Linked DNA regions of Homo sapiens. The protein of the gene in region 1 purifies or fractionates together with the protein of each later gene. This does not show direct contact. Each region holds a gene or a part of one and is shown on either strand. Other genes may lie near its edges.

Evidence for each region.
Region 2: the proteins of ESF1 (region 1) and NAT10 purify together in Homo sapiens (co-immunoprecipitation; one large-scale study listed by IntAct). This does not show direct contact.
Region 3: the proteins of ESF1 (region 1) and AATF fractionate together in Homo sapiens (co-fractionation; one large-scale study listed by BioGRID). This does not show direct contact.
Region 4: the proteins of ESF1 (region 1) and SEPTIN7 fractionate together in Homo sapiens (co-fractionation; one large-scale study listed by BioGRID). This does not show direct contact.

Annotation. Positions count from the first base shown.
Region 1 is NC_000020.11:13,754,719-13,762,330, reverse strand, and holds part of ESF1 (ESF1 homolog), read left to right. Parts: intron 1-2,477; coding exon 2,478-2,639; intron 2,640-7,612. UniProt on the Homo sapiens protein: May constitute a novel regulatory system for basal transcription. Negatively regulates ABT1.
Region 2 is NC_000011.10:34,109,778-34,117,389, forward strand, and holds part of NAT10 (RNA cytidine acetyltransferase), read left to right. Parts: intron 1-2,274; coding exon 2,275-2,446; intron 2,447-3,938; coding exon 3,939-4,061; intron 4,062-6,045; coding exon 6,046-6,107; intron 6,108-7,612. UniProt on the Homo sapiens protein: RNA cytidine acetyltransferase that catalyzes the formation of N(4)-acetylcytidine (ac4C) modification on mRNAs, 18S rRNA and tRNAs.
Region 3 is NC_000017.11:37,012,890-37,020,501, forward strand, and holds part of AATF (protein AATF), read left to right. Parts: intron 1-6,115; coding exon 6,116-6,183; intron 6,184-7,612. UniProt on the Homo sapiens protein: Part of the small subunit (SSU) processome, first precursor of the small eukaryotic ribosomal subunit.
Region 4 is NC_000007.14:35,802,499-35,810,110, forward strand, and holds part of SEPTIN7 (septin-7), read left to right. Parts: intron 1-7,612.

The DNA.
Region 1 (7,612 bases):
TTATTGTGGCACAAAGCACAAACAGGAAAAAAATGAATTTCAGCTGTTTGAATGAAAATAAAAGTGTGATAGGATGGAAAGAATGTCCTGGACCATTTTTTATTTATTTTAAGAAAACAATATATACATATAGAAATATTTACTTAACCAGTTTTTTTCCATATCACTTTTTTAAGATATAAGGACATTGATGATATAAGGACTTGCTGAAAAAAGAAAAAATAAATGAATTTTAAAAATTAAAAAAGATACAAGGACAAAATGAATTTTAAAAACTAAAAAAGATACAAGGACAATCTGTTAACACTGATGTTTCCCAGCTAAATGCTTAATAATGTCAGACATTTTTGGTGAGCAGTTAGCCATAGGTTATAGAGGAGAGGGACTTCATTATCCTGCTAGTAGAGTTTCCTTTACTTGAGACAGTCAATTCAATAAGTCTGTATGTTTTGCATTAAAACCCAGGTTTCTGATTTGTTTTTGATTTGGAGACTTGCAGTGGAAATGTAGAACAAACTTTTTGGTGTATTAGTTTTCTTGGGTATTTGTTGCCTGTGAATTTTATAATGTTTCTTTGTATTTTAATTATTTTTGCAGAACTAGGAAATGCAGATGTGAATGTTTTTCCACACAGTGAAATTAATTGAAGTAACTCCTAATTCATTTTTATTCTTAATATATTAATGAGATCGTTGGAGTAAGCATGCTTGCTCAAAAATGGAAAGGTTCCAGTATTCTTAGGTTTGGATTATAAACAACTGCCTTTATCTCTTCTCTTCAGGCTGAATAGCTGCAAACCGAATTCATCCCAACAATATTCAGCCTACATTTATTCAGCATAACATTTTAAAGCCACTGTGCTGGATAGTGGAGGACATAAAGAGGGATAAAATGCCATCTTCTTTTTTTTTTTTTTTAATTTTTTGTATTTTTATTTTATTTATTTTTTTTTAATTGATCATTCTTGGGTGTTTCTCGCAGAGGGGGATTTGGCAGGGTCATAGGACAATAGTGGAGGGAAGGTCAGCAGATAAACAAGTGAACAAAGATCTCTGGTTTTCCTAGGCAGAGGACCCTGCGGCCTTCCGCAGTGTTTGTGTCCCTGGGTACTTGAGATTAGGGAGTGGTGATGACTCTTAATGAGCATGTTGCCTTCAAGCATCTGTTTAACAAAGCACATCTTACACCGCCTTTAATCCATTTAACCCTGAGTGGACACAGCACATGTTTCAGAGAGCACAGGGTTGGGGGTAAGGTCATAGATCAACAGGATCCCAAGGCAGAAGAATTTTTCTTAGTACAGAACAAAATGAAAAGTCTCCCATGTCTACTTCTTTCTACACAGACACAGCAACCATCCGATTTCTCAGTCTTTTCCCCACCTTTCCCCCTTTTCTATTCCACAAAACCGCCATTGTCATCATGGCCCATTCTCAATGAGCTGTTGGGTACACCTCCCAGACGGGGTGGTGGCCGGGGAAGAGGGGCTCCTCACTTCCCAGTAGGGGCGGCCGGGCAGAGGCACCCCTCACCTCCCAGACGGGGTGGCTGGCCGGGCGGGGGCTGACCCCCCCACCTCCCTCCCGGACGGGGCGGCTGGCCGGTGGGGGCTGACCCCCCGCCTCCCTCCCAGACGGGGCGGCTGGCCTGGCAGGGGCTGACCCCCCGCCTCCCTCCCGGACAGGGCGGCTGCCGGGCGGAGACGCTCCTCACTTCCCAGACGGGGTGGCTGCCGGGCGGAGGGGCTCCTCACTTCCCAGATGGGGCGGCTGCCGGGCGGAGGGGCTCCTCACTTCTCAGACGGGGTGGCTGCCGGGTGGAGGGTCTCCTCACTTCTCAGATGGGGCGGCCGGGCAGAGACGCTCCTCACCTCCCAGACGGGGTCGCGGCCGGGCAGAGGCGCTCCTCACACCCCAGACGGGGCGGCAGGGCAGAGGCGCTCCCCACATCTCAGACGATGGGCGGCCGGGCAGAGATGCTCCTCACTTCCTAGATGGGATGGCGGCCGGGAAGAGGCGCTCCTCACTTCCTAGATAGGATGACGGCCGGGCAGAGACGCTCCTCACTTTCCAGACTGGGCAGCCAGGCAGAGGGGCTCCTCACATCCCAGACGATGGGCGGCCAGGCAGAGACGCTCCTCACTTCCCAGAGAGGGTGAAAATGCCATCTTCATTATCTTGCAGCTTATAGGAAAAAGAAGCCCAAAGATGTTATGTAACTGCAGAATTATTATCCAATATAAATTTTAATAAAAAGGGGCATTCCCAAGCATACTGCTATGACAGTGCAAATTTATATTGCAACTGATTTTTATTCTACATGAGACCCTAAGTCTTTCATTTAATATTCAGAAATTTAAGTCTGATTTTGATATCCTGTGGTCTAACAGCATCTTTTAAAAGAGAGTGACCATAAGATCTGAACACGAGTTAGAAATGAATTGTTTCTGTGTATTAAGTGAATTTTTTTTTCATTAGGTGATGATGGAGTCAATGTAGAAGAAGATGGGAAAACAAAGAAAAGTCAGAAGGATGATGAAGAACAAATTGCTAAATACAGGCAGCTCTTGCAGGTTATTCAAGAAAAAGAAAAGAAAGGCAAAGAAAATGATATGGAAATGGAAATTAAATGGGTTCCAGGTAAGAATTAGATACTAAATGTTTTCTCTTTTTCGAATTTCAGCATGTTGAGTACCTTTTAAATATGAAGGAGCCGGAAATGTTTTGGTGAGGACCTTAACATCATATTTGCATACACCATTTAACTAACTTAATGACTAGCATTTTAGACTCTTACCAACTTATTTTTAATTGGTTTCTTTGATTTACTAACTATAAATTTTTCCTGTCCATTTATCAGAGTAGCTTTTCCTAGGTTTGAGCCTGTATTCTCAAGATATAGAAACTTGAATCCAGGCACCACGTGTTCTAAAGTTATTACACTTCTTTTGAATGTTTAATTCTTAAGTGACCTTTTCTTCCATAACCCCCACTAGTCCTTAATTCATGAGGTTTCACTAACACAAAATATGTATTACATAGTCTTCGATTTTCAATCTTGCTGCGAATAGTCAAAGAAATATAGCATAGTAGAGTAAAATAGTACTAGTACAAAACTAATTAAAATCATGTCAAAGCTAAACAAAGATAAAAGCTGGGATAAATGGGATCATTCTGTAGTAAACAGCAGTTGCCCCTTTTTCATGGTTTCACTTTCTGCAGTTTGTTACCCAGTATAGTACAATAAGATACTTTGAAAGAGAAAGAGGAAGAGAGATTATATTCATATAACTTTTATTACAGTGTAATTATTCTGTTTTATTGTTGGTGTTGTTAATCTCTTACTGTGCCTAATTTATAAGTTAAACTTTATCATAGCTGTAGATGTATAGGAAAAAACATACTAGCTATAGGATTCAGTACTATCCATGATTTCAGACATTCACTGTGGGTCCTGGAATGTATCCTCCTCAGATAATGGGGGACTACTGTACACATTTTTTTCAACATTGTTGGGCAAATCATCAGGGACTTCTGCAGTCAATACTGTTTTTATAGATTACTGCTGTTTATATTATATATGTGTATAACTTTTAAAACCAGATATATTTTTGGATAAGGGTTCAGTTCTTTAGCCTATATTAGTCACTAGGAGAAAGAGTACTAACCAGTTGTAGGAATACCATTGCTTAAAACTTAAAGGTGTTCTGTTACCAATTCCATTTTTATAAGTAGCGTGCTTTTGTATTGGGAATAAAACATATGTTTGCGTGGGTTTTTATTTGGGAAAAAAATAGGGTATTTTGATATTTGAGGATTGACTGGCTATTGTAGTAAATTTGCTAGGATGGACACTGGCTATTGTAGTAAATTTGCTAGGATGGTCTGCTGCATATTCCTACAGGAATGAAGTGCTGTGTTGCAACCCATTTGTTTTAAATGTTTGGCTTTTGCAGGAAGTGGTGGTAAGAACGAATGAAGTTTACTGGTGTATCATATGACAAGTGGTTGGGAGAACTCAATTGATTTGGCCTGGAGAGGAAAAGTCTAAAAAGTGATTTTAACAGCTATTTTTAAATACTTGCAGAATATGTAAATGAAGACTTAATCTCTTTTATTACCTCACAGGTTAGCAGTACTGCCAGTGGATAAAAGTTGAAGGAAGGTAGATTTTAACGTAATAATATAAAGAGGAATTCTCTATATTATTAGAATTGTCTCGCAGAAGAACTGAAGGCTGCTTTAAGGGGTTGAGCTCTCTGTGTCAGTAAATCTCCACCATAAGGCTACATAATTATGCTACTCAGAGATGTCTGTTAAGAAATATTTTACTTGAGTCCCTTGACTTTATGATTCTAAGAAATGTTGAATTCTGTCTTTTAAGTTGAATATATTGTAGTTTAATTCTAATCTTAGAATGAGCTTATTGAATATATTTTAATATGAACATTTTTAAATTGAAGTGTTCAGTTGTCTGAGAAAGCAGATCTAAAATAAACTGGATTGAGGTGTTTTATAGCAAATATTTCAGAAATATATAATGCCAGTTGTAAGGTACAGATATATGATACAGGTTCCCACACTAAGTGGACCACATCTAGATTGTGTCTTTATTAACATAATTATGAAACCGGGCACAGGGGCTCACACCTGTAATCCCAACACTTTCAGAGGCCAAGGTGGGTGGATTACTTGAGCCTCAGATGTTCGAGACCAGCCCGAGTAGCATGGCAAAACTGTTCCATCTCTACAAAAAAATACAAAAATTAGCTGGGCATGGTGGCACACGCCTGTAGTCCCAGCTACTGGGGAGGCTGAGGTGGTAGGATCACCTGAGCTCAAGGAGGTTGAGGCTGCAGTTAGCTGTGATCATGCCACTGCACTCCAGCCTAGGCAACAGAATGAGACCCTGTCTCAAACAAACAAACAAACAAAACATAGTAATGTAGGGCAAATACCTAAAAGTGGTATTTACACCTGTTATCTGTAACTGGAAGTTATAAGCATTGCTTATATTTCCTCAGATAAACCCCACCTTGGTCATGGTACCTTATCTTTTTATATATTCCCAGCTTAATTTAGTAATATTTTATTAAAAATATTTGTACTTGTGGCAAAGAGGAATATGATCTGTAGTTTTCATTCCTCGTATTGGTTTTTGGTATTAGGGTAATGTTGACCTTATGAAGTGAAAATGTAAAATGAAAGATTATCATCTGTAATTCCACTATCCTAATTCAACCACTGGTTAAGAAGATTACAGTTTAATTTACCATTTCTCTGTTGTTGAATATGCAATCAGATTTCTAATCTTTCACTACAGTGGACTTATAACATTGAAAAAAAAATAGGACAGATCTCAAACCCACAAATAACAAGCTTTTCTTAAATTTCTTCATTTTCATGAGCAGCCAAGTAATTGGCTTGCCTTTTTAGGGCCTTTTAATTTTAAAAACTTTTAAAACAGAGGTGTGTTTTTCATCTCTCCCAGCCTAGAAATGTTTCCAAGCATGTCAGGACTAGTAGAGAACAACCAGGCCACAATGAGAAGCTGATGCCTAGCATTCAGGCTTAACTCACTAGTTAGTTACGTGACTTCCTTGCTCACACAGCAACTCTACATGTGCTGTAGATCAACCTGTGGTTCTCTCACAAGCTGTTAAAACTACCAGTGTCAAAACCTCAAATGTTAAATCCCAGATGCCAAGTATCTGGGATGTTATAAATAACCTATAGCTTTTTCCATATTTTGAATTATTTTCATAGGATAGTTTCCCAGAAATAGAGTTACTAAGAAAGGGCATGAATACTTTTTGTGTCTTGAAGTTATTGCCAAATTGCTTTCTGGAAGTGTTGTACCAGCTTATAATACCTTCAACAATCAGTAAGAGTGTCAGTTTCACGGAATTATCGTCAACATTGGGTATATATTTTTTACTTTTAATTGAATAGGGGAAAATTGATATTTTAATGTATGAGTTTCAAAGGTCTTAAACTGTAATATTTTGAAGGCCCCTAATGAGGTATTGTTATCTGTGAATCCTTATGTACATGCACGCATGCACATGCAAGTGTAAAGGGTTTTTCTGTGTGCTATACATATAAGATCATTGAGCAATCTTTCTGTACCTCAGTTTATTCATATGGAAATTGGAACTAATAATACCACTTTCTTGCTTAGAGATACTTACAAACGTTATAAACTACAAAGTACTTTCATGACGTGTATTTCAGTGAATTTATGTCTTAAGAAATGTGTGTTTTCTGTAACAGTTACCCTGAACCTCAGGACTTTTTTGATGTTATGCTTCAGTAAACCACGGAGGGTCAGTATGAGATTATACCGTATCATTCATTGGTTCTGTGGCTTGACTCTCCAAAATATTAACCTCTTCAGGAAAATAAGTACTCTTAATCACTAACATTTATTGTGGTTTGGTTTGATTTTTCAGAAGAAATTCTAGTTTAGACTATTTAAACGTTCTACCTTTTTACATTGGGTTATACAGTATAGTAACATGAGGAGTTTAATTTCTTAAGGGTAAGTATTAAGGGAACTGATAACAGGTTTGTGGGCATAACAACTGGAATGAGCTACTCTTTCTATCAATATTTTAGTTCCTATGGAAATGTAATAATACAATTTTATTAATTAGGATTATAAATAAGTAAAAATGTTGAATTATAAAATTTTTAAAGAAAGTTATACTTAATTATTTTGATGTATGTGAAGTTGTATTTCCTATCTCAATGCGTTGCTAAAGGTATCCTGCCAACTTACTAAGGAGTAGATAAGGTGATGCATATAATTAGCCAGTTGGGCCTTCATCAAGAAATGTACCTCGTTGAGGAATTTCTAATACACGTATAAATGAAGTGTAATCAGTTTTAACTCTTTATATAACTTCCCCTGTATTAATAGTCCAGTTAATCTACATAATATTTTTTGTAGATAATGCAAGCTGAATATAAACAATATATATGAAATTCCATCCAGAAATAAATAATGGCATGTTTGTTTATAATCTTAAATTTTTGATTATGGTAAAAGTCCTGTTTTTCTTAGCTATCTCTGGCCTAATAGATATTAGTGAAATGGATAGCTGGTCTTTTTTCTACTCAGCACTCTACAGAACCCCAACTTCTCTTCCTTACTCCATCAAATACTTACTGAATACCTACTCTGTGCCGGGAATTATTCTATACACTGTGTGAACAAAACATAAAAATCCCTGAACTCACAGATCTTATACTCCGGTGAAGGAGAAACTAAACAGATGACAGATATATAAGAAACATATTTGACCAGGAACTAAAGAAAGTAGAGGTCAGGGAGTGAGCCTGGCCCAGGAAGACTGTGTGAGCAGAGGAAGTAGCATAGGAGTATCCTTGAAGCTATACTTTGTCTCTTGTGTTTGAGGAATCCAAGGAGAACAGTATGACTACAGTGGAGGACAGAAGTAACTGAGATCAGAGAGGTAGTTTGGGGCCAGACATGAAAGCCTTGTAGGCCATTATAAAGACATGAATTTCTGTGACTGAGATGAGAAACCACTGGAGAGTTTTGAGCTCAGGAGCAGTCAAATCTGACTTTTATATTTAACAGGATCATT
Region 2 (7,612 bases), on another chromosome or scaffold:
TCCCAGCTCAGTTTGTCATCTCAGTGTATCTGCTCTATGCAGACCAACTTTCTCACTGCAGACCAGCTTTCTGTTTTCTGTTGTCCCCCTAGCAGAAACAACACTTGCGTTTTCCTTGTTTCAGGCCCAGCCATGTGGAAATCAGACTTTTTCCCAAAATTCTGGTGGAAAAATGCCCACACCTGGCCAGAGGAGGGTGGGGTTGGTCATAGCATAATACAAAGTTGGAAGTTCTACCTACAACTTTGTGTTTGGAGAAGTTTGGATGGGGTGGGTAGTGCTGTTCCTTGGCAGATAACCACCATGGCATCACCTAAGAAATAGTCTCCTTTTTTGGCTTCAGTGTCTTTACTCAGACCACCTTCCGGAGCTCTTCTCTTTCTCTGGATCTCGTCTCCTTACTCTAAACCTAGCTGGCTTGTGCGATTCTGTCCTTGAGCCTCTTCTAATTTCCAAATGTGCTCATCTCCGATCTGACTCTGAAAGCCTGTCTCCAGCTCTGGTTGCTTTATGCTGTGACTAACCTCCCTCCTTTTCTTTGCTCATGCTGTCTCCTCTGCTTGGAATGCCACTTCCACCTCCCCGGTATCACCTATTGAAATCCTGTTTCTCAGGGCCTGCCTCCTCCGTGAAACTTTTCCTGAGCCCCCCAGTCATACCTGGTGGTTCCTCTACCTTCCTCTGCACTTGTCCTTCTCCTATAATGTTTGCCAATGGATGCTTTTGCTTTAGGGTAAAGTCACTTACATACTGTGACTTACGTTCATTTTTTTTTCTTTCCCTTTTTTTTTTTTTTTTTTTTTTTTTACTTTCAGGTGATAAGCTTATTTAGTTAGGAGCCCTCTTCTATTTATCTTTGTATTTTCATACTTTTAACTGATTTAGCATGTTTATCATAGGTACTCAGTATACATTGAGTTGGATGTGTTGTTAACAGGCTCTAAAATTATTTTAATTTAAATTAGTACCAGAGGCTAAACTTGCCCCTGTCCTGTGGTCTTAAAGTGAAGGGATTCTGCCTAAAGGAAACCAGACAATCATAAGAGCCTTACTGATGAAATGTGAAAAGTGCAGAAAACCCAAAGATGAAAATAAAAAACATCTCACTGTCTAGGCATTGTCAGCATCTAGGTGTATCTTACAGGGATGTAGTTTTGAACCATAATTGGTATTCTGTTGTATATACTCTCATATTTAGAGAGGTAGGCATTTTTAATACAGATTGAGAATAAGGCCTGTTGTCTATCCCAGAATTTTAAGTTTTTAGGGCTTCTGGTTTTCACTATTTTTCATTTGGCAAATATGAGATGGGTGTGGAATTAGGCAGTTCAAAGTCTTCTGGGCAGATTTGCCTTTTGAATTTAAACCACCTGGCTTCACTTCTAAAAATCTACTTTTGTACCTCTTATAGCTCTTCTGCCCCACCCCTGTCTTAGTCTGGCAGAGCATTGTGTTCAAGCTAATGCCTGTTTGTAAGTCACGGGCTTAAGGCCTGAGCCAGAAGGGACAGTGGAGACAAACTCACCCACTGCCTTGGTTCATAGATGAGGAAGTGGAGGCCCACAGGAGGAAAGGCCTTTGTTCTAGCTATTAAGTTAGAGAACTATGGTAAAATTTTGATCAGCTGTAATCCTCCATTCTAGAACATTCTAATTCTCTCTTTTGGTAAAGGAAAGGTAAGTAGCAACTGGATATGCAGGGTTTTTAAGACCAAAAAAATTCAGGAATTCCTTAGAGATGTCCAGATTCCATTCTGATCCCTGTGTCCTGTATCATTATTGTCTTATGTAAGACCTGCCCTTGAAGACATAATCCCACATTCTCGGGGAGGAAGTCCTCTAGGAAGGATGAATAAAGTAACGTGCCATCACCTTGTCTTTCCTAGGATCTCTGGGGAACAGCACAGTGTAGTTGAAGCATTGGCTTATGACTGAGATAATGAGGCCACTCAGGTTTGGTTTCAAGCTCTGGCTTTGGCCAAATGTGAGGGTTAGCTACCCTATTACCCATCTTTTAAAGCAAAGTATTTGCTCAAGGTCACAGGGCAAAATAGCAGAGTTCACACATAGACTTATCACTTACTCCAAGCCCTTAAGCACTCTAATGCCTCTCATGCCTCTCCACTGCCCTCCACCTGAAGTGGGCCTCACACTTTCAAGTTCCCTACTAGCTCTGAAAGTCTAAGTGGGTGATCACTGAGCCTTTCCCCTGGTTCCAGCTCTTTAGCTGCTCTGGTTAACTGGCTCTCATGGGATTGGGGGTGTGTGATTGCAGTCACCGGAAGAAAAGAATGCGACAGCTGCAGAAGAAAATAAAGAATGGAACACTGAACATAAAGCAGGACGACCCCTTTGAACTCTTCATAGCAGCCACAAACATTCGCTACTGCTACTACAACGAGACCCACAAGATCCTGGGCAATACCTTCGGCATGTGTGTGCTGCAGGTGGGTGGCTTCCTCTAACCTGTGATTGAAGTCAGAGTCTTGAGGGTTGCTTGGGCTGCCTGGCTTTCCACTGGGAACAGATGTACAGTAAGGAGAGGAGAGTCCCATGTTCCCTATGCCCAAGCATTATTAGTGGAAGTCCTGGCCACTTTCCAAAGTACACTCGGTCACCTACCCCATATAAAAAGAGAATTTTAAATCAGCACTTGTCTAGAGACACCAGAACTGAAGTGATGAGTTATTATAACGGGTTCTAACTAGCTAAAGCTGATAAAGCAAATGCCAGAGACTTTGAGTGCCTCTAGGACCCTAGGTCCTTATTGGCATTCACCAAAGACTTTTTTTGTCCAGTGAGCAATGGGACTTGTTTTCCAACCGGATATAGACCAATGCACTTAAATGTCCTGTCCAGAGTGCCTGAGTGGCATACCCACCATGAAGGCCCCTCTCCCCTTTTCTAGCCCTTAAAAACCCCTCACTTTACCTCTCAGAGACTACTTGGTGAATTTCTGCACTGGTGTGTATTCTCTTGCCTGGCAAGTTAATAGACTAAGTTTCACTTTGTGTGTGTGTGTGTGCATGTGTGTGTAAGCACTGGTGGTCTTTGTTTTATTCTTTGTTTCTTTGATTCCTGTGCCACCTCCCTTCCCCATTCTCCCAAAAAAGACAAGACAAAATTAAGCACAAATCCTCACATTTTTGTGTGTTTATCATATACACTTACAACTGTGCCCATTATTATGTCAAGTTACATACCTTGCAAAATATGGGTTGTCTCCTATACTGCTGGCTTGCATCTCACCTTGGAGGCCAAGAAAGAGGGCATTATGCCTCATTTTCACCTTTACTCAGGGAAATGCCCTGGGTTATCACTGATTGGTAGGGAGTGGTCTTCTACTTGCTGCCATGATCAATTGCCTGAATAATGACTCCTGTGAGCAGTAGCTCCCCCATGTAGTATAGTTTTGTCAAACAGGTTTGAGCTATAAATGTCAGAAAATGTAAGATGTTTCTGAAATTCAAGTATGAATCAGTGAAGGTTGGAAAATTTGTTTCCAAATAGGATTTTATCAGAGACATTTTTGACATATAAAACTAACAACGTCTCTAATAAGAGACCCGTTTTTGGCATATAAAACCAGGTATTCGTATATTCGAGGGTTTGGCCCTCTTCTGTGGTACCCCTGTGTGTGTATCCTGGGAAGTCAAGGTGGGAACAGGTATGGTCTTGGCTTTGTGCTCTGAAGTCTTCTTTTTGCCTTATCACCTGGCTTTTGGTTAAGAGTCCCTTGGGTTGGGCCAGGCGCGGTGGCTCATGCCTGTAATCCCAGCACTTTGGGAGGCTCAGGTGGGTGGTGAGCCAAGATTGCGCCACTGCACTCCAGCCTGGGCGACAGAGCAAGACTCCATCTCAAAAAAAAAAAAAAAAAAAAAAAAGTCCTTTGGGTTGCTATTTGCATGACCAGCCCTTTCTAACGCCCCCTTCTTCCAGGATTTTGAAGCCTTAACTCCAAACTTGCTGGCCAGGACTGTAGAAACAGTGGAAGGTGGTGGGCTAGTGGTCATCCTCCTACGGACCATGAACTCACTCAAGCAATTGTACACAGTGACTATGGTAAGCATCTGTTTTTTAACTTAATTGTGAGGGTTCAAGTAAATCTGTTTTTGCTGTGTTCTGCTTTCTTTAAAGAATTCCTGTTGGGCAGCTCCAGTGAGTAGTCAGCACAGCCTCTGGGCTAAGAGCTCTTTGATTTTAACTAATGAAAAAGTCACTACAGTTAAATCTCAGGGTCCATGAGTATGCCTAGGAATCTCTGAATTTCACCTTTGTTTTCAGGCACTTGCAAATTCTACACCAGTGAGATTCAGATATGATACAGCTTTTATGTAGTTAAATTTTCTGGAATGATATTGTACAAGGAGCAATGCCAGTGCCTAAATTTGTGTATTGCAAAAAAAGGACCATGTGCAGACTGCTCACTGGCCCTTATCCTAATGGATGACGAAGGAACATTTGCCAGTTGTACTCCAGTTTGGCAAGAATTTCAACTCCAGCAGAGATTGTGTTCTCCCAAAGCAAAAGACACTGACTGAGGACATGGTGAGGAATTAGGGATATGTCTCACCTGATGCAGAGCTGGTCTCCTCACTTTATCAGCGTTGCCAAGTCAGTGTTCAGAGGCAAGTTTTAAGTCATGCCCATGTCCAGCAGCTCAGTAATGGTGGTCGGATTGGACTTAGGGTTTCCTGAGCTGCATTTATCTGATGAAATGGACTTTCCTCAAATCTTAGGGGCTGTTTCCTGTCATTACTTCTCCCTTCATCACTTGCACTACAGCCCTTTTGGCCTCCTCAAATGTCCTCAGACATGCCCAGCACACACTCCTGCGAGGGCCTCGGCACTTGCTGTTCCCACTGGAATGTGCTTCCTCTGGACCTCTGCCTGGCTCGCTTCCTCATTGCATTCAAGCCCCTGCTCAGATATCACCTCATCCATGTGGTCTTTCCTCACACCCTGTTTACAGTAGGCAGCTCCGCCTGTCACTCCTTAACCGGCTTTATTTTTCTTCAAAGCACTTGACAATGACCTAAAGTTATTATTATTATTTGTCTGTCCTCCTGTACTAGTCTCTAAATTTCACTGGAGGGCCGATCACAGTGGCTCACGCCTGTAATCCTAGCACTTTGGGAGCCTGAGGTGGGCGGATCACCTGAGGTCAGGAGTTTGAGACCAGCCTGGCCAACATGGTGAAACCTCGTCTCTACCAAAAATACAAAAAAAATTAACCAGGTGTGGTGGTGCACACCTGTAATTCCAGCTACTAGGGAGGCTGAGGCAGGAGAATTGCTTGAACTCAGGAGGCGGAGGTTGCGGTGAGCTGAGGTCACGCCACTGCACTCCAGCCTGGGCAACAGAGCAAGACTCCGTCTCAAAATAAATAAATAAGTAAATAAATTTGATGGGAACAGAGAGTTAGTTTTCTTTGCTGTTGCATTTCCAGATCTTAGAAGAGTTCCTGGCATTTAGTAAGCATTCCTTAGATAGTTGAGAGTGAATGAATGACTTTGTGCTCACATCAGTTTGTTCTTCCTCTCCCTCTGACATAGCTACCTACTTACCCTTCAGGCCTCAGCTTATCTCAGAGAGGCCCTCCCTCACTACCCTACATAAGTGACCCCCACTTGCTATCCGTGCAGTCTATATTTCATATGTAGCATTTGTCAAAATTTGTATTTATCTACTAATTTTTCTTCCTCCATCCATTATACTCCAAGTGCCATGAGAACAGAGGTCATGCTTTGTTCATTAGTGTATGCACAGCATATCTGGCACACAGCATGCCAATTTTATGAAATAAATGAATATAACTTAGGATGCTAGGAAAAATGTGGAAAAGTGAAAGATTTTAATAAGCAACGTTGCATTCAGTGTCTGATCCCAGTTTCAGCAAATACCATTTGGCACAGCAGTGTGTGTGGGAGTGATTTTGTTTCCAGCAAGATTGCCCATGTCTCCTTGGATAGAGCTTTGTATTTGGACCCTGGTCCTCAGCACTGTTTGCATGCCTTTGTTAATGGATGTTGTCTTTCTTTGTTAGGATGTGCATTCCAGGTACAGAACTGAGGCCCATCAGGATGTGGTGGGAAGATTTAATGAAAGGTAATTCTATAGTTCCCCCCAATTGTGGGGCAGCCACATTGGGAGGGACATTTTTATCTTGGACTCAACTGAAAACTTTGCTTTTATATTGGGGAAAGTAGTACAATATTCCAAAAATGATGAGATTCTTGACAGCAGCAGCAGTTGTGAGACTAACTGGAAGCAGTGAAACGTGGTGGAAAGTTGGAGCCAGGAAACCTCAATTTTGTCTTGCTGCTGGCCTTGACAGCTCAGTTAAACCAGGTTACTCTCTCTGGTTCTTAGCTTACTCATCTTTTAAATGAGTGATTTTTCTGGATCACTGCTTCCCAGAAGATATTTCATAGAGCAGTAGTCTTTCCAAACTTTTTATTATGAATATGACGTACTGGCATAGTAAAAATGATTAAGAGAAATATGGGAGGTGGGGTGAGATGTAATTAGAGGCAGAAAAAGGCGACAAAGTGTTTCTTCTGAGCAAAGGAACACCCATAATTTCAAATATGGTGTACGGTTTGTTATCTGAAATTAAATTTGTATGTATTTATTTTTATTTTATTTATTTATTTTTTTGAGATGGAGTCTTGCTGTGTTGCCCAGGCTGGAGTGTAGTGGTGCGATTTTGGCTCACTGCAACCTTTGCCTCCCAGGTCGAGTGATTCTCCTGTATCAGCCTCCCGAGTAGCTGGGATTACAGGTGCCCGCCACCACACTCGGCTAATTTTTTGTATTATTATTATTATTTTTTTGAGACAGAGTCTCGCTCTGTTGCCCAGGCTGGAGTACAGAGACACGATCTTGGCTCACTGCAACCTCTGCCTCCCGCATTCAAGCAATTCTTGTGCCTCAGCTTCCCAAGTAGCCGGGATTACAGGAGCCCACCACCATGCCTGGCTAATTTTTGTATTTTTAGTAGAGACAAGGTTTCACCATGTTGGCCAGGCTGGTCCTGAACTCCTGACCTCAAGTGATCTGCCCCACTCAGTCTCCCAAAGTGCTAGGATTGCATGTATGAGCCACCGTGCCTGGCCATTTTTTGTATTTTTAGTAGAGGTGGGGTTTTCACTGTGTTGGCCAGGCTGGTGTCGAACTCCTGACCTCAAGTGATCTGCTCACTTTGGCCTCCCAAAGTGCTGGGATTACAGGCGTGAGCCACCGTGCCCGATCATAGAACACTAGTCTTTTAAGAGGGAACATATGAGGAGGGTTTGGCCATATATGTCTGGGAAACACCTATACCGTTTTTTCCTTTATGAAGATTTGCCCCAGCCTGTTGTAATCTCTGAAAAGTCTTGCAGCAGCAGGGACCTGTTTAACTGATTGTTTCCCAAATTTATTTTACCAAAAAAATTTATTTTTTTGAGGGGTGTGGGAACACCAGTTAGCACCCTGTGAAACACCTTAGGAAATTTTGACCTAAATCAGTGGTTCTCATCTGGAGCCATTTGGCCCCCTGGGGACATTTGGCAATGTCTGGAAATGTTTTGATCGTAATGACTTTGGGAGGGTGGTGGTGGGTGCCGTGG
Region 3 (7,612 bases), on another chromosome or scaffold:
ATAAACCTTTTAGAAGAAAACATAGGAGTAGAGCTTCATGACCTTGGGTTAGGCAATGGTTTCTTAGATACAAATCAAAAACACAAATGACAAAAGAAAAAATTGGACTGTATCAAAATTAAAAACTTTCCTGCCTCAAATGACACTCTCAAGAAAGCAAAAAGACATTACAGAAGGAAAATGAATAAGGGACTGGTATCCAGAATATATAAAGAACTCTTACAGCTCAATAACAAAAAGACAAATAACCTCATTTTAAAATGGGCAAAGGGTCTGAATAGACATTTCTCCAGTGAAGATATACAAATGGCCAGTAAGCACAGGAAGATGCTCTGCATCATTAGCCATTAGGGAAATGCAAATCAAAGCTGCAATGAGAATGTATCATACCTGCTAGTATGGCTGTCAGTCAGTGTTTACATTATTATTACTAAGTAAATGTTGTTCTCAAGTGTCTTAGTCTGTTCTGCATTGCTATGAAGGAATACCTGAGAATGGGTAATTTTTGAGGAAGAAAGGTTTCTTTGGTTCACTCTTCTGCTGCTGGGAATTTTGGGCTTCTAGTGGAAGCCTCAGGCTGCTTCTGTTCATGAAGGAAGGCGGAGGGGAGCTGGCATGTGCAGAGATCACGTGGCAAGAGAGGAGGCTAGAGGACTGAGGCATGCCAGGCTCTTTTCAACAGCCAGCTCCTGGGCTCTAATAGAGCGGGAACTCACTCCCCACAACCAAGGGAGGACTTCATCTATGCATGAGGGATCTACCTCCATGGCCCAGACACTTTCCATTAGGCCCCTCCAACATTGAGAGCAAATTTCAGCATGAGGTTTGGAGGGGACAAACATCCCAACTATAGGAACAAGCGCTATATTATGATTACATTTTTCTTACAAATTTGTTTTTTCCTAGAGCTAATAATGCCTGTTTTTAAAAGATTTGCCTAGTTTTCTGTGTAACTATTGCTGTTTTTCCCTATATACTCCACATGCCTTGAATATATAAAATAACCTATCCTTTTGCACCTCCCTTCTACTTTTTCCCCTTGGAGACCTCATCCTAGAGCTCTCTGGACTCTTCTGGCGTGGCTGCACACCAGGCCTGCTGGCTGTATTCCTGGGACTTGCCTTTGCTTCTTCCCTGAGTTAGACCTCTCGTTTCTAATATCTTATGTCTTGATTTTAGTATACTCATTTACTGAAGTACATCTTTCTGTGAAAGAGTACACAGAAAGTAAATTGTTGAGTCCTTACGTGTATGAAAAATGCATTTATGTAACTCTCATTATACTTGGTTAATAATTTGGCTGAGGAGGCAGAGGCTGCAATGCGCTGAGATTGCACCACTGCACTCCAGCCTGGGTGACAGAGCAAGACTGTCTTAGTAATAATAATAATAATAATAATAATAATAATAATAAGGCTGTATATGGAATTTGAGTCTGGAAGTCATTTTCCATAGAATTTTGAAGGTACCTTGCTGTCCTCTGCTATCTGCTCTTGCTATTGAGACGTCTTTTCCCATTCAGATTTCCATTCTTTAATATGTAGGGCGACTGTATAATTTATTATCAAAACTGGGACAGGTAAAGTGCTAGTCTGACAGCATATTAGGACAACAGGTGTAAACCAGGACTTTCTTGGTAAACTGGGACATATGATCACCTCTTTATATGTAACCTGTTTTTTCTTTAACTGCTTAGGATCTTCTCTTTACCTCTGGTGTTCTACATTTCATGATGATGTGTCTTGACAGAGGCCCTTTTTTATTCATTGCACTAGGTCTTTGCAGTTGTATTCCTGTTCTTTCTTTGATTTGGGAAAATTTTCAGTATTCCTTCAAACATTTTCTCCCAGCCTTTGTTAGTTAGATGTTTGACTTTCTGGATTATCCTCTAAATTTTTGTCTTGTCTTGCAAATAAGCAAGGGGATATTATCTTTTTGCCTTTTGGCTTTCTTTTTGTTTTATATCAGAGATTTTCATTCATTTAAGTTCTTCTGTTGGATTTTTTAAAATTTTCTGTTTAGTGTTTAATTTCTCATTTTAGTCTTTTTCACAGCATCCTGCTCTTATCAAAGTATACCCTCTCCCACTCTTGGGATATTCATTGTAAGTTTTGGGGGTTTTTTTCTCCTTTTTAATTATTTATTTTGTTCTCTGCATTGCTTCCTTGAGTCTCTTTTCTATTTGTTTGGTTTGTGCATGAGGATTTCCTCAGATGCAGGCGATCCTTAACTGTCTGTTCATATTTAAGAGTAAAGCATTAAAGTTTATTATTCGGAATCTCTGAAACCTGGGCAGAGCTTTTTGGCTTCTTTAAATATAATTATGCTGTGAACTGACCTCTTTGTTAGAGTAGCCTTGGATGTCAGAATTTGTATTTGTTTGCTTTGTTTTCTATATATCTATTTGTTTGTGCTGCTATAGTAAAATACCACAGACTAGGTAATCTTAAAAGAACAGAAATTTATTTCTCACAGTTCTGGAGGTTGTAAAGTCCAAGAACAAGAAGGTGGCAGTTTCTGTTGTCTGGAGAGGGCTGCTGTCTGCTTCCAAGATGGTGCCTTGATGCTGAATTCTTCTGAGGGAATTCACATGGCAGAAGGTGGAAAGGCAAAAGGGACAGACTCCCTCCATCATGCCCTTTTAGAGGGACGCCTAATCCCATCCACGAGGGCAGAGCCTGCATGACTCAGTCACCTCCCAAAGGCCATTCCTTCCAATACTGTTGCATTGGGGATTAAGTGTTCAACATACGGATTTTGGGAGACACATGCAGAAGACCATAGCAACTTTGAAATCTAATTTTGGGGGTGGGAGGGCAGACACCATTCAGTTTCTTCCAGAAAAGGCTCCTCTGCTTTCCTGCCTAGGAAATTATAGAATGGGATGTTAGCTTTCTACAAATGAGGTGGGAGAAAGGGAGAGGTTTCAGAGATTAACATAGAGCCTTTCCCTTGTACCTCATTCCAGCCTTCTTTGCCTGGTATCCTCTATTCTGGAGCTTCTGTGGTTCAATATTTCCAAAGAATAAAATTTCTTTTCTCTCACGAGAGGAGGTGGGTGGTAGAGGTGGTTAGTCACTTGGCTGTGTGGGATAATGGAGGAGGCCCAAGTGGTTCTGCTCCTTCTCTTTTTCCCACCTTGCGTGGTAACTGCCAGAGAGCTGATCCTCACAGGAATTCTGCGGCCTAATACAATTAGCTTCATCTTCACCTTTATTCACTCTGGGCATTTGGGTGATAACTTCTCCATCTCCTTACTGTCTTGGAAAAATTTATGAAAATATGCACACATTAGTGCTCCTTTTCTCTTTTTTCTTAGGAGTTAATATTTATTTTATTCCTCAACTGTCTCTTAGAGGGGTTGAGAAGAGATAAACTAATGTGTTCAATCTGCCATTTTTAACTGTTTCTAGCATGCATTTTTTCTAATGAAAGTATTATAAATGTTGATTAGATGCTTAATAGTACTATTAGTCCTGTTCCTCATGTATATTGGTATGGGTTAAATAGGTTTCTGTGGCCAACCTGAAAACCTAACTGTATCTATGATTTTCCCTTAGAACTAGAGGTATAATCAAGCCTTTCCGAATTGATTATCTGGAGGAATTTTAACAGACTAGAGCAAAAACATTTTCTCTCTCTCCATTTTCCAAATCACATAGAAAATTACTACAAATACTATATCATCATTGTTGAAATAAAAAGCTCTAATAATTGTAACAGAAACTTGAATTTTAGTAGAAAGGTTTATTTGTAAAGTTAAAGCTATACAAATTAAAATCAGAAGTAAAATTGAATTCTTCAGCCAATATCTCAAATCTCTTTTTTTTTTTTTAGCAACTGTTTTGAAAGCAATTTTCTAATTAAATTTAAACCCAGTGATAGTGGTAGCTTTGGGAAAATAGTAATAGCCACGGGAATCATTTGTTTAACTGTATTTTTTGTTGTTGTTGCTTTCTTTTTCTTACCATGGACACAACAGAATCTTCTGAAATATTGGACTGAATAAACTAGACCTAGCTAGATAGACCAATAAAACAATCTTCCAAGTCATGAATGAGTAAAAATAGTTATGCAAAGCACTTGTGTGCGAAAATGCAGCTCAGAATATGTATAGTACACAAAGTGTTTGAAAGTAAATGCTGCACCAACTTGGTGTTGGAATTGCAGAGACCACTGCAGTGGGGAGCTCCAATTTCCAGCCTTTGGCAAGGGCATATTCTTCCCGAGGATCACCCTGTTGTGCTGGGGCAGCCTTCCATGAGCACTTGCACCCCGGTGACCCTGATTGCCCAGTCTCAAGGGATCTGAGAAAATTAGGAAAACCAGGAACGGTTGTTGTAATCTTTTGTATGGCTGGAACGAGGTAAGGGCAATGAAATGCAGTTATTCCATTATTTTCCTTCCTTTTTATTTTTCTTTCTCTTTTATTTCTTCTTCTTTATTATTATTAACCACTCCCCCTCACTCCCCCTACTCCTTGCTTTTGACAGAATATTGACTAGGAACCAGAAGCCCATTTCTGCTTAGCCTTAAGGGCAGCTGTTTACACAGCAGCAGTGTTACATAGGTTTACTGTGTCATATGTCTGTGTAACACTGGATTTGGATCTTGTATTTAGCTGCCAGAAGTGACTGTGATGAAGTAGGAGAGATAAACTGATAGATTGGCTGCCAGAAAGATGTTGGGAATCAATCAGATAAACAGGGTAGAGAAATAGCTTGCTGTTTTCTAGTGATAATAAAACCAGCGGCTTCTGGTCCCTGCATTCTTAAACATAATTGCTGTAGTAATAATGTCCAAAATAAGCAAATGAAAAAACATCATGGGAGGTTTTCTAATTGCAATTGAGATATCCTTTTCCCTTTTGCAATAAAGATTCATCTTTTGGAAGTGAATATTTTTTATAAATTTGTTTTACTTCTTCCAGTGCCTACTTACATAAACATATGAAATTAGAAAGAGATCTGCTTTCAGAGGAATTTATTTCTCTTTCTTCATTTGAACCACTGAAGCCCACAGGCTTCAGCTATTTGATTTGATGAAATATCTCTATTGCCACCATGCCTCACCTACAAAATCATTGCTAATTTTTATGAAGAAACAAGTTTTAAGGCCAAACCTGGATTATTGACAGATGATTAGCAGAACTAGTTTATCTTAGCGTCTTCTCTTAAATTTCTCTCAGAAGATTTTTGGAATTTTAATCTCTGTTTCTCTTTCTCTGCATATAGCACTTATAGTTCTATTATCGTAATTCAGGGTTTTTCTCCCTTAGTGTTTAACTTTTAAAACCATTGCTTCTCTTCGCCCAAGGACTTTAAGATTCAGTGCAGATTCTTAAGTCTGTATGAAAGGTACAGATGTAGATTTCAACTGGGTGCAGAGGAGTCAGGCTTAAAATGACAGTAGGAGAGTCATTTAGAATAACTCCCATGGAGTTAATTGTATTGGATGAGAGACTAATCCTCTGTGGTATATTTGCAGTATGCAAATGACTTTCTTTAGATTCCCTCTTAAAATTTGTGTGGCTATGAATGTGTTGGTATCATGTGTGGCTAAAGCACTTAATAGCAAGCATGGTAGAGTAGCAGCTGTGGAAAACAAGAGGCCGATGCCCACACTTTTAATTACATACAGTAAAGGCTTTTTGCCTGAGGAAGACCTTCCTGACTGTTGGAGGTTATAGTTCAGAAGTTAACCTTGCACCATTATCCTGTTGGTGAGAAGCTGATGCATTTCCCTTTTTGCCACACGGCCCTTCCCACCTGACCTTTTAAAGATTCTCCATTGATATCAATGGAGTGGACAAAACTAATCATAAAAATAATGAAGGGAATGTTGCATACTCATTGATCTATTTGAAATGAACTGCGGTACAATAAGTCTTCCAAATGGACTTCTGTTCTCAGCTACTGCTATAGCCACCTTTTTAAAGATATATAACTATGAAAGCGTTAACGGGAATTCAGTAATGCTCTTGCCACTGGGTTGTCCCTTATTGATTGTAGTTTTAGAGCTGTCACTATGCCATTCAGAATTCCTTCTCTGCCCTTTTAAAGTCAGTTGTACTGGAAGATGATAAATAAATTCGTTGCTTTCCTTTTTCCCCTAGCTCCTTCGAGAACTCATAGAACGGAAGACCAGCTCCTTGGATCCCAACGATCAGGTGGCCATGGGAAGGTAATTTAGATACAGCTTTCTGTTCATGCAAGCAGCCTATGTAATAGTTTCTCCCCTTGAGTCCCTTTAATTCTACCTGCAAAGCAATGATTGGTCCTATAATTATTGAAGTTAAGCAAGTAAGAGCTAGAAAGAAAATGTGACTAATTGTTTACCCTACATTGCCTAAAGTGCAATTTGTAAAGAAATTATAAAACACCTATGTGTTTGTTTTTAGAGTTTGTTTTCCAAAGTCTTTCTTATGCTCTTTGCTCCCTGGTTTTGCATTGTGATTGTATCCATATCAATCTGTTGACCAGTGGATACAAAGCAGCCATCCAAATGTGAGCTCTCAGCTGTCAGAACATGGCACTGCGCACAACAGGTTCTTTGCTCTCAGTCGAATCTGCTTTGTTAGAGTCTGCCCTAATTTAGACCTCCACCTCTTCAGTAAAAGCTTCAGCACAATTAGAAGTGGAACGTGGCAGCATTACCCAGATGTCAGGGCAGAATGTAAAGTAGTGAAGGAAGGCCCTTGTGTGTATGCTTCATCCTGTGGTTGGAAAATAAAAAGGGCATTTAGAATGCTACCTAATGAATAGTGTACATTTAAATAGCCATGAGCCATAATTTGCAAAAGCATGAAAGGAAACAAAAGCTGCAAGTGCCAGAATGGGATTCTAGGCAGAGCAGCCATTCGAGAAAGCAGTGAAAAATTTGTGTTGATGAAATAATTTTATTTAAGTAAAATATTATGTGAATTTTAGGGTAGGATGTTGATATTTCGTTTATCTCTGGAATGTTATAGAGAGCTGTTCGCTATAAATTTAATGTGATAGAGCAAATTGCATTTAAGTGGTGATTATATTGTACATTTATCTGACTTTACAATAAAATAGATTATGGTAATTAAGATTATATTAAGATTACAGTAATTGGATTTCCCTAGATTTTTTTTTTCTGGTGTTGAATTTTCGTTGTATAAATCAGGTAGGATGACTAGCTGCTGCTGCTGTTTCTCCTTCTTTTTCTTTTTTTCACTTTAGTTCATATGAGCAATTTATGAAGATTTTCTTAGCCTAATATCCCTTATTGAAAAATTAATTCCTTCTTATCTAAAATGACTGCAGAATATGTGAATCTTGTTTGGATTCTGATCCAAACAAGCCAACTGTAAAATTGAGACATTCCAGGAAATGTGAAGACTGACTGAATATTTGATAATAAAGAATTATTGTTGACTTTTTTTTTTAGATGTGGTAATGGTATTGAGATTATATTGAGGGGAGAAGAGTCCTTATCGCTTCTCTTGTATAGCAACACGTACTGAAATATTTATAGATGAAATGAAAATTAACAATTTAAACAATTTAAACAATTTAAAACAATTAAAAACTAGTATCAGTAGTGGATAATTATTTAAAAATTAGCAAAAATTGGAAAGCACAAG
Region 4 (7,612 bases), on another chromosome or scaffold:
GGAAAAAATATCTTTGTTAGTGCCCCTGAGAATGTAAATGAACAGATCATCTAAATTACTAAGCATCTAACCTGTTTTACATATTTATGCACATGCAGGTGATGAGTATAGTCAGTTTTTCCCCCTAAAGTTTATGTGCAGACATGGGGAGGAGAGTATTTTAGACTTAAAAGTGTACAGGTAGGGATGAAATTTATGGAATCCTGATAGACTGAAGGGGGGATATAAACAATGACCAAGTCAGCTATTGCTGCTTGGATTCTTTATTTCTTCAGACTGCAAGGGAATGAGTAAGGGGTGGTTGGGTGGTGATGGGGGGGTGGTACGGTCGTGGCGGGAGAGCAGTAAACAATCTTTCATCTCATTCAGCTGTTCAGTGGGTGGGACTAAAGGAGATAAGAGTTGAGTGAAGCTATGAAATAAATGTGGAAGCTACATAGGTGATTTGCATGGTAGCATTGTCTTATTCTATGATGGGACAACATGATGGAACCAGGTCTTCATAACACAGTTATTAAAAATACATATTTTACCACATCTTAGGCTTACAGAATTCAAATTCACAACAAATAACAGAAATGTTAAGTTGATTTTAATTAGTTCTTATCCTTTAAAAAGAAAGGATATTGTCTTTTTCTAATGTAGCTTAACAATTTTTGTTGCAGGCTTTGGTTTGGAGATATTTGATGCATACATAATACATGAAAGGTAGTGTTAAAAGATTGTATTTCAGAAGTTTGTGATAAAATTGGTTGTTCAGATTTGCACATTGTCCCGTAGAAGTCATTTTAAGTAAATCCATGCCAGAACTTCTGAACAAGTCTGAGGCAAGTTAGGAATCCTTACAGAACCTAGGAGAATTTAGAGGAATATGCTAGGACAACAACAACAACAAAGCTTGGGGGAGAAGAGGGAGGAAGAAGAGTTACATCTATGGCTTCTAAGGTCTCAGTAATGGAGAGTGATCAGATGAGGGACCAGTCAGAATAAGGATAGTGGTAGAGCAGATTAGTTTCAGACTTTGTATAATTTGATGATATACATATTCATTGTAGACTGTATTCTGGGAATTGCCGATAGAGAATTCCTACCTGACTAAATTGCCTGCTGAGAAATGTGTTTCACATTTTGAATTAATAAGCTATCTTCAATTTTTGATTATAAGTTGAACATTTTAAACTAATGATTTATGTCTTTTACTAAGTTTTGAGACAAAACTTTTTGTATACTTCTTTTTTTGTACTAAGTTTGGACTGTAAAGATAAACTTTATTATACAATAGAAACTGAAGAAAAATTATGTTTTTAAGGAGCAGAATTGTAAGGTAGTTTGATTATGGGTTTAGTTCGCTATATGAGAGCATACTGTTAAATGTAGACCATTGAACTCTACAGCAGTGTTTTGAAGACTGCAGGTTGTGACCCATTAGTGGACATTGCACTTAATATTTTGAGGGAGATTAAATTTTCTTTCAGGTATTGTGTACTAGGTGGGGAAGTAATTTTTTTTAAGGATTGTGGTCAAAATGTACAGTATGGATGAGTCAAATCTAAGGTCTTCGAACCTTATGTTAGGGGTTGGAGGTCTTGGTGTGAGGAAGGAAGACTTTAAAATTAAAGACTGTTAAGTCCGTGTGGCTTTTTCTTACTTTGGATTCATTTATCCTGTACTCCATGTAGCTCGCATGGTTAGAGAGATCTGAGGCCTACTCCTATTTGAGAGGATGTTATCCCCCATAGCCAGAAACCAGGGTGGCTTCCAAAAGAAAAGGGTAGCATTCGGTGACTCTGCTTTAGGCCTTGAGGATGAATCTTTTCTTTGTTTTTGTCTTCCTGTGTCCTTTTGCATCATCAGAGATCTGGAGACTAAGCTTTGAGCATGGGCTTGGGGAAGAGGGGCCAAAGAGGCAGCTTGGCTGGCATTAAGTGTTGAAGGCCGTAGACCAGACACACACTAAATCCTTGTGACTTACACTTGGTGCAGTCCAGCTATCCAGATGTAGGGATTACACATTGGGGTTTGAGTTCAAAATCTTAATAATGATTTAGAACATGGGCTTTGATGTTAGATATGGATGCAAATCTTGGCTTTGCTACTCAATAGATACACCAGTCAGAGTAGGTTAGATTGTAATTTTAAAAACTACAGTTAGGCGTTGTTAACAATACGGTACATTGAGAAATCATAGAGTATTTTACCTACACAAACCTAGATGGTAGAGCCTACTATACACCTGGGCTATATCCTATTGCTTCTAGGCTATGAGCTTGTATAGCTTGTTATTGTACTGACTACTGTAAACAATTATGACAAATGGTAAGCGTGTTTCTTTTTTTGTTTTTTTTTTTTTTTTTTGAGACGTAATTTCGCTCTTGCTGCCCATGCTGGAGTGCAATGGTGCAATCTTGGCTCACCGCAACCTCTGTCTGCCTCCTGGGTTCAAGCAGTTCTCCTGTCTCAGCCTCGCGAGTAGCTGGGATTACAGGTGCTTGCCTGCCTCAGCCTCCCAAGTAGCTGGGGTTACAGGCACTCGCCACCACGCCCAGCTAATTTTTGTATTTTTAGTAGAGACGGGGTTTCACCATGTTGGCCAGGCTGGTCTGGAACTCCTGACCTCAAGTGATCCTCCTGCCTCGGCCTCCCAAAGTGCTGGGATTATAGATGTGAGCCATCACGCCCGGCCAAGTGTTTGTGCTTCTAAGCATAGAAAAGATGATGTGCTGTACTATGAACTTGTGACTGCTATGACATCACAGGTGATATGAATTTTTTTAGCTCCATAGTAATCTTATGGGACTACTGTCATAAATGTCCATTGTTGACCAAACGTTGGACATACTGCATGACTATACTGCAAATAAAAAAAGTGGAAATGGAATAAGAAAGATAAACTATAAGCCCCAATTTTTTATTATTAGTTTCAATAGACATAAAATTATTCTGCTATTAAATTTTCCATTTTTGTGCTCTCAATTTGTGTTTCTCTGACATAAACTGATAATTCACAGACTGGCTCATTGGTCCACAGACCACACTTTGCATAGCACTAGGTTAAACTATGCTGCAGCAACAGACTGTCATGCTAAAGTTTATGTACAGTATTATGTTTTAGGCCAGTGTTAACTTTAAAAATACTATACTTTGAAAGCTGAGAATTAAGTATCCCCTGTGATTGGGGGGATAGCCTGAAGCTGCTCCTGCTTACGTTATTTTGAAGTTTTCTAAGTCTTAAGTATTCATGTGTCATTTGCATTTTATTCAATGTTTGTTTGCTTTATGTGAAATATAAAGATGATATTCTTCCTCCTTCCCCACTGATCTGGAAGTAAAAATGGACTTTCCTGAAGTTGTAACATCTTAATTCTGTTGTTTTGTTTAACTCTGGGACACAACTGACTACTTCTGGTAGCTTTATTGGAGGTGAGGCTCCAGGTCAGAGTTTCTCATTTGAGGTTTTGTAATTATTTGAGGGAGGGGAGGGCTGTCTTGAGCATTGTACAGTATTTACCAGCATCCCTGCTGTCATCGTGCTAAGATGCCAGCAGCACATGCTCTCTCTGGTTGTGAAATGAAAAAAATGTCTACAGACATTGCCAAATGTCACGTGGGGGAGCAGAATCATCCTTGGTTGAGAACCACTGCACTAGGTGATGGAGAGCCATTGAAGGATTGTGGGAGACGGGGAAGAAGGAACAAGCTTCCTTAACTGTCTTACTTTTTACTTCTTCCTGGAACTCCTACCACTTAATATTCTTAGTATTTCCTAAACTTGGGAATCAAAATTACCTAGATTTTTTTGTATTAAAAGTTTATCATTAATTGATATATTTTTGCAAAGCATGATCAGTAATTACTGGACATAGAACATTATGCTAGGTCATTATTTTCTAAAGTATGGTTGAAGGGTCAACCATGGCTTGGAGTTAAAAATGCAGATTAACTGGTTCCCACTACAAGACCCATTGATTAGCAATCTCTGGGAGAGGGACCCAGGAGTCTACATTTCCAAATGCTTTCCGACTTATCAAGTAACTTCATTATTGTATGCTTTCATAGAAAAAAATACGTGGATTTTAAGTATTTAGTTCAATGAATTGCTGATGTGCATACACACATCTTGTAGCCTTTATTCTAATCAAGATAGAGAATACTTCCACCATCCCAGAGTTTCTTGTGCCCTGTTGGAGTTCTCCTTCTACTGCCCCAGGTAACCACTGATAAGATTTCTAATAGCCATGAATTAGTTTTTTTGTTTTTGTTAGTTGACTCATTTAAAGTGTTTTTTCTGGGTAACTTTCTAAAGTCTCCCCATCCCTATAACTTCTTTATTATATAAGATTTCAAATAAAATGAACGTCATGGTGTTTTTCAAAGAATACAGATTCTCATAGTGTTTCACACTTTGATAAATGATAGGCCTGGGATGGGGCCCTGAAAATCTTTGGCTCTGATTGACTGTTTTCAGGAAAATCAAAACTATTTTCCACCAGTTTTGCTGTGCTTTATAAAATATATTTGAAATATTCCTGCAGTGGTAATTTGAAACTTTTGTAAACTTTGTTCATTGATTTAACAAGTATTTGACTCCAGGAAGTATCAGACACTTTGACACCATAGCAATCAAGAAAGCTGTGGTCATGGATGTTATGATGTTTCTGTTTTCATTTCTGAAATTGCTTTTTTAAAACTTTTTTTTTTTTTTTGAAACGGAGTTTCGCTCTTGTTGCCCAGGCTGGAGTGCAATGGCACAGTCTCAGCCACCGCAGCCTCCGCCTCCCCGGTTCAAGTGATTCTCCTGCCTCAGCCTCCCGAGTAGCTGGGATTACAGGCATGTGCCACCATGCCCGGCTGAATTTTTTTTTTTTTTTTTTTTTTTTTTTTTAGATGGAGTCTCTCTGTGTCGCCCAGGCTGGAGTGCAGTGGCGCGATCTCGGCTCGCTGTAAGAAGGTCTGCCTCCCGGGTTCACACCATTCTCCTGCCTCAGCCTCCTGAATAGCTGGGACTACAGGCGCCCGCCACCGCGCCCGGCTAATTTTTGTATTTTTAGTAGAGACGGGGTTTCACTGTGTTAGCCAGGATGGTCTCAATCTGCTGACCTCATGATCCGCCCGTCTTGGCCTCCCAAAGTGCTGGGATTACAGGCGTGAGCCACTGTGCCCTGCCAATTTTTGTATTTTTAGTAGAGACAGGGTTTCTCCACATTGGTCAGGCTGGTCTCGAACTCTCGACCTCAGGTGATCCACCTGCCTTGGCCTCCCAAAGTGATGGGATTACAGGTGTGAGCCACCGCACCTGGTTGCTTTTTAAAAATTTTATTGGGAGGTTTTTTGTTGTTGTTTTGTTTTTTTGAGACGGAGTCTTGCTCTGTCACCCAGGCTAGTGGCATGATCGTGGCTCACTGCAACCTCTGCCTCCTGGGTTCAAGTGATTCTCCTTCCTCAGCCTCCTAAGTAGCTGGGATTACAGGCACATGCCACCACGCCTAGCTAATTTTTGTATTTTTAGTAGAGACGGGGTTTCACCATGTTGGTCAGGCTGGTCTCTCCTGACCTCGTGATCTGCCTGCCTTGGCTTCCTAAAGTGCTGGGATTACAGGTGCAAGCCACCGCACCCAGCCTGGTTTTTTTTGTTGTTGTTTTTTTTAATAGGTAATATAATCACTTGGTTCAAAATTCAAAAGGTTAAACAGAGAGATACAGTGAAATCTCCTTCTTACTTCTACCCCCAAGTCACCCAGTTTCCTAGTCCTCGGCATCCTGTGTTAACAGTTTCTTGTATGTTCTTCCAAAGGTGTTTTTTGCATATGGAAGTTAAAAACATTTATCCTTCCTGCCCCCACCCTTGGTAGCATTAAGACACATTATTTCCCACATGTTTTTTTCCAATGAGTGTAATTTGGGTTATTCCGTATCAGTACATAAAGAGCATTCTTATTCTTTTATACAGCTGCATAACCGTTACATGATATCTCAGTCTGTTTGTGCTGCTCCAACAAAATACCTGAGACTGGGTAATTTATAAGGAACAGAAATCTATTTCTTACCATTCTGGAAGCTAGGAAGTCTAAGATCACAGTGCCAGCAGGTTTGGCGTCTCTGCTTCCAAGATGGCACCTTAAATGCTACTTCCTTTGGAGGGAACAAATGCTGTGCCCTAACATAGTAGAAGGAGCAAAAGGGTCAAGCACCTCCCTTGCACCTCTTTTATAAGGTCATTAATCCTATTAATACCATTACTAGTGATTAAGTATCAACATACAAATTTTGGGAGAACACATTAAGACCATAGCATATGGATAGATCATGATATGGGATATATTTTGATTTGTTTAACATGTCTGCCTCTGATAGACATTAATTTCCAGTGTTTTGCTATTACCAACTTTGACATGGTGAGTCACTTGGGATATTGATCTCTTCACATTTGTTAGTGTATCTAACAAATACACTAACTGTTAGTTTTTGAACTCTTTGAAGCAGGAGACTACCACTTAAAAGTTGTAGTATTGACATTGTCATTATATCAATAATGTATTGATGTTATAGTATCATAACATTGATGTTAAGTATTGGTAATATTGCTGTTAAGTCATTAGTTTAGAACTTCAACAATCAAGTTCATTCACTTAACAAATACACGTTTTGTACTTGCTGTGTGCTGGCCACTGGGGAAACTGAATTAAATGCTGTGGCAGTTGAAATAGAGGCATGGTGATTAAGAGTTTTCGGATCTAGAGTCAGACTTGGATTCATATCTCAGTTCTAAAGCTTAACTGAACCTTTGGCAAATAACAGAACTTCTATTTTTCCTTCTCTGTAATGTGGGAATCATAAGGTTATTGGAGAAGTAAATGAGATAGTACATGACAAATCCTTAGCATGATGCCTGGCATATAATAAACACTGAGATGTTAGCTTAAAAAAAGTTATCAGACTATATTGCAGTTGACTTTATGTTCTGCCTCCACTGTGCTTAAAGTCTAGGCCTGTGTTTTGTTCACCTTTGTGTCCCCAACCCATAACTGGCTTGCATTTAGTAAAAAATTTGTGATACGATATAAAGGTATGCAGAGCATACAGTGAAAGTTCAAAGCAGGATACCTTTTCCATGCTGGAGAAGGTGAATCTTTGAAAGTCGGTAGGAGTGATTAGGTAAAGGAGGTGAAGGAGTAAAGATAATTATTCTAGACTGAGAAATTATGTTAGTATCAGGTTATGAGGTTAGAAGAGGTAAGTAGGCAACTGGTATTGCTGTGCTGAGAATTTAAAAATCTTTATTGAAGGCTTTAAAAGAAAAGTGGTAATCGTAAGAATCGTGATGATAATTCTCTCTGTTGAGAGTTGACAGGGCACCAGGTTGGAGCCATTAAATTGAAGGAGTTTAATGTAGCAGTTTAGGACTAAAAATTGGTCAGAAGCAGGGCAATGGGAAAGGACATGAGGGGGATGGTTGTAAGGTGTTAGGGAAGATGTGGGTGGTGAGTAATGAGTCCAGAATATTTGAGCTTTCTGACTTGAGTGAATGGGTAGATGAATAGATGCTATTTCTTGAAATAGGTAATTTGAAACATGAAATTGAGAGGCCTGGGGGACATCCAAGTGGACATGTCTT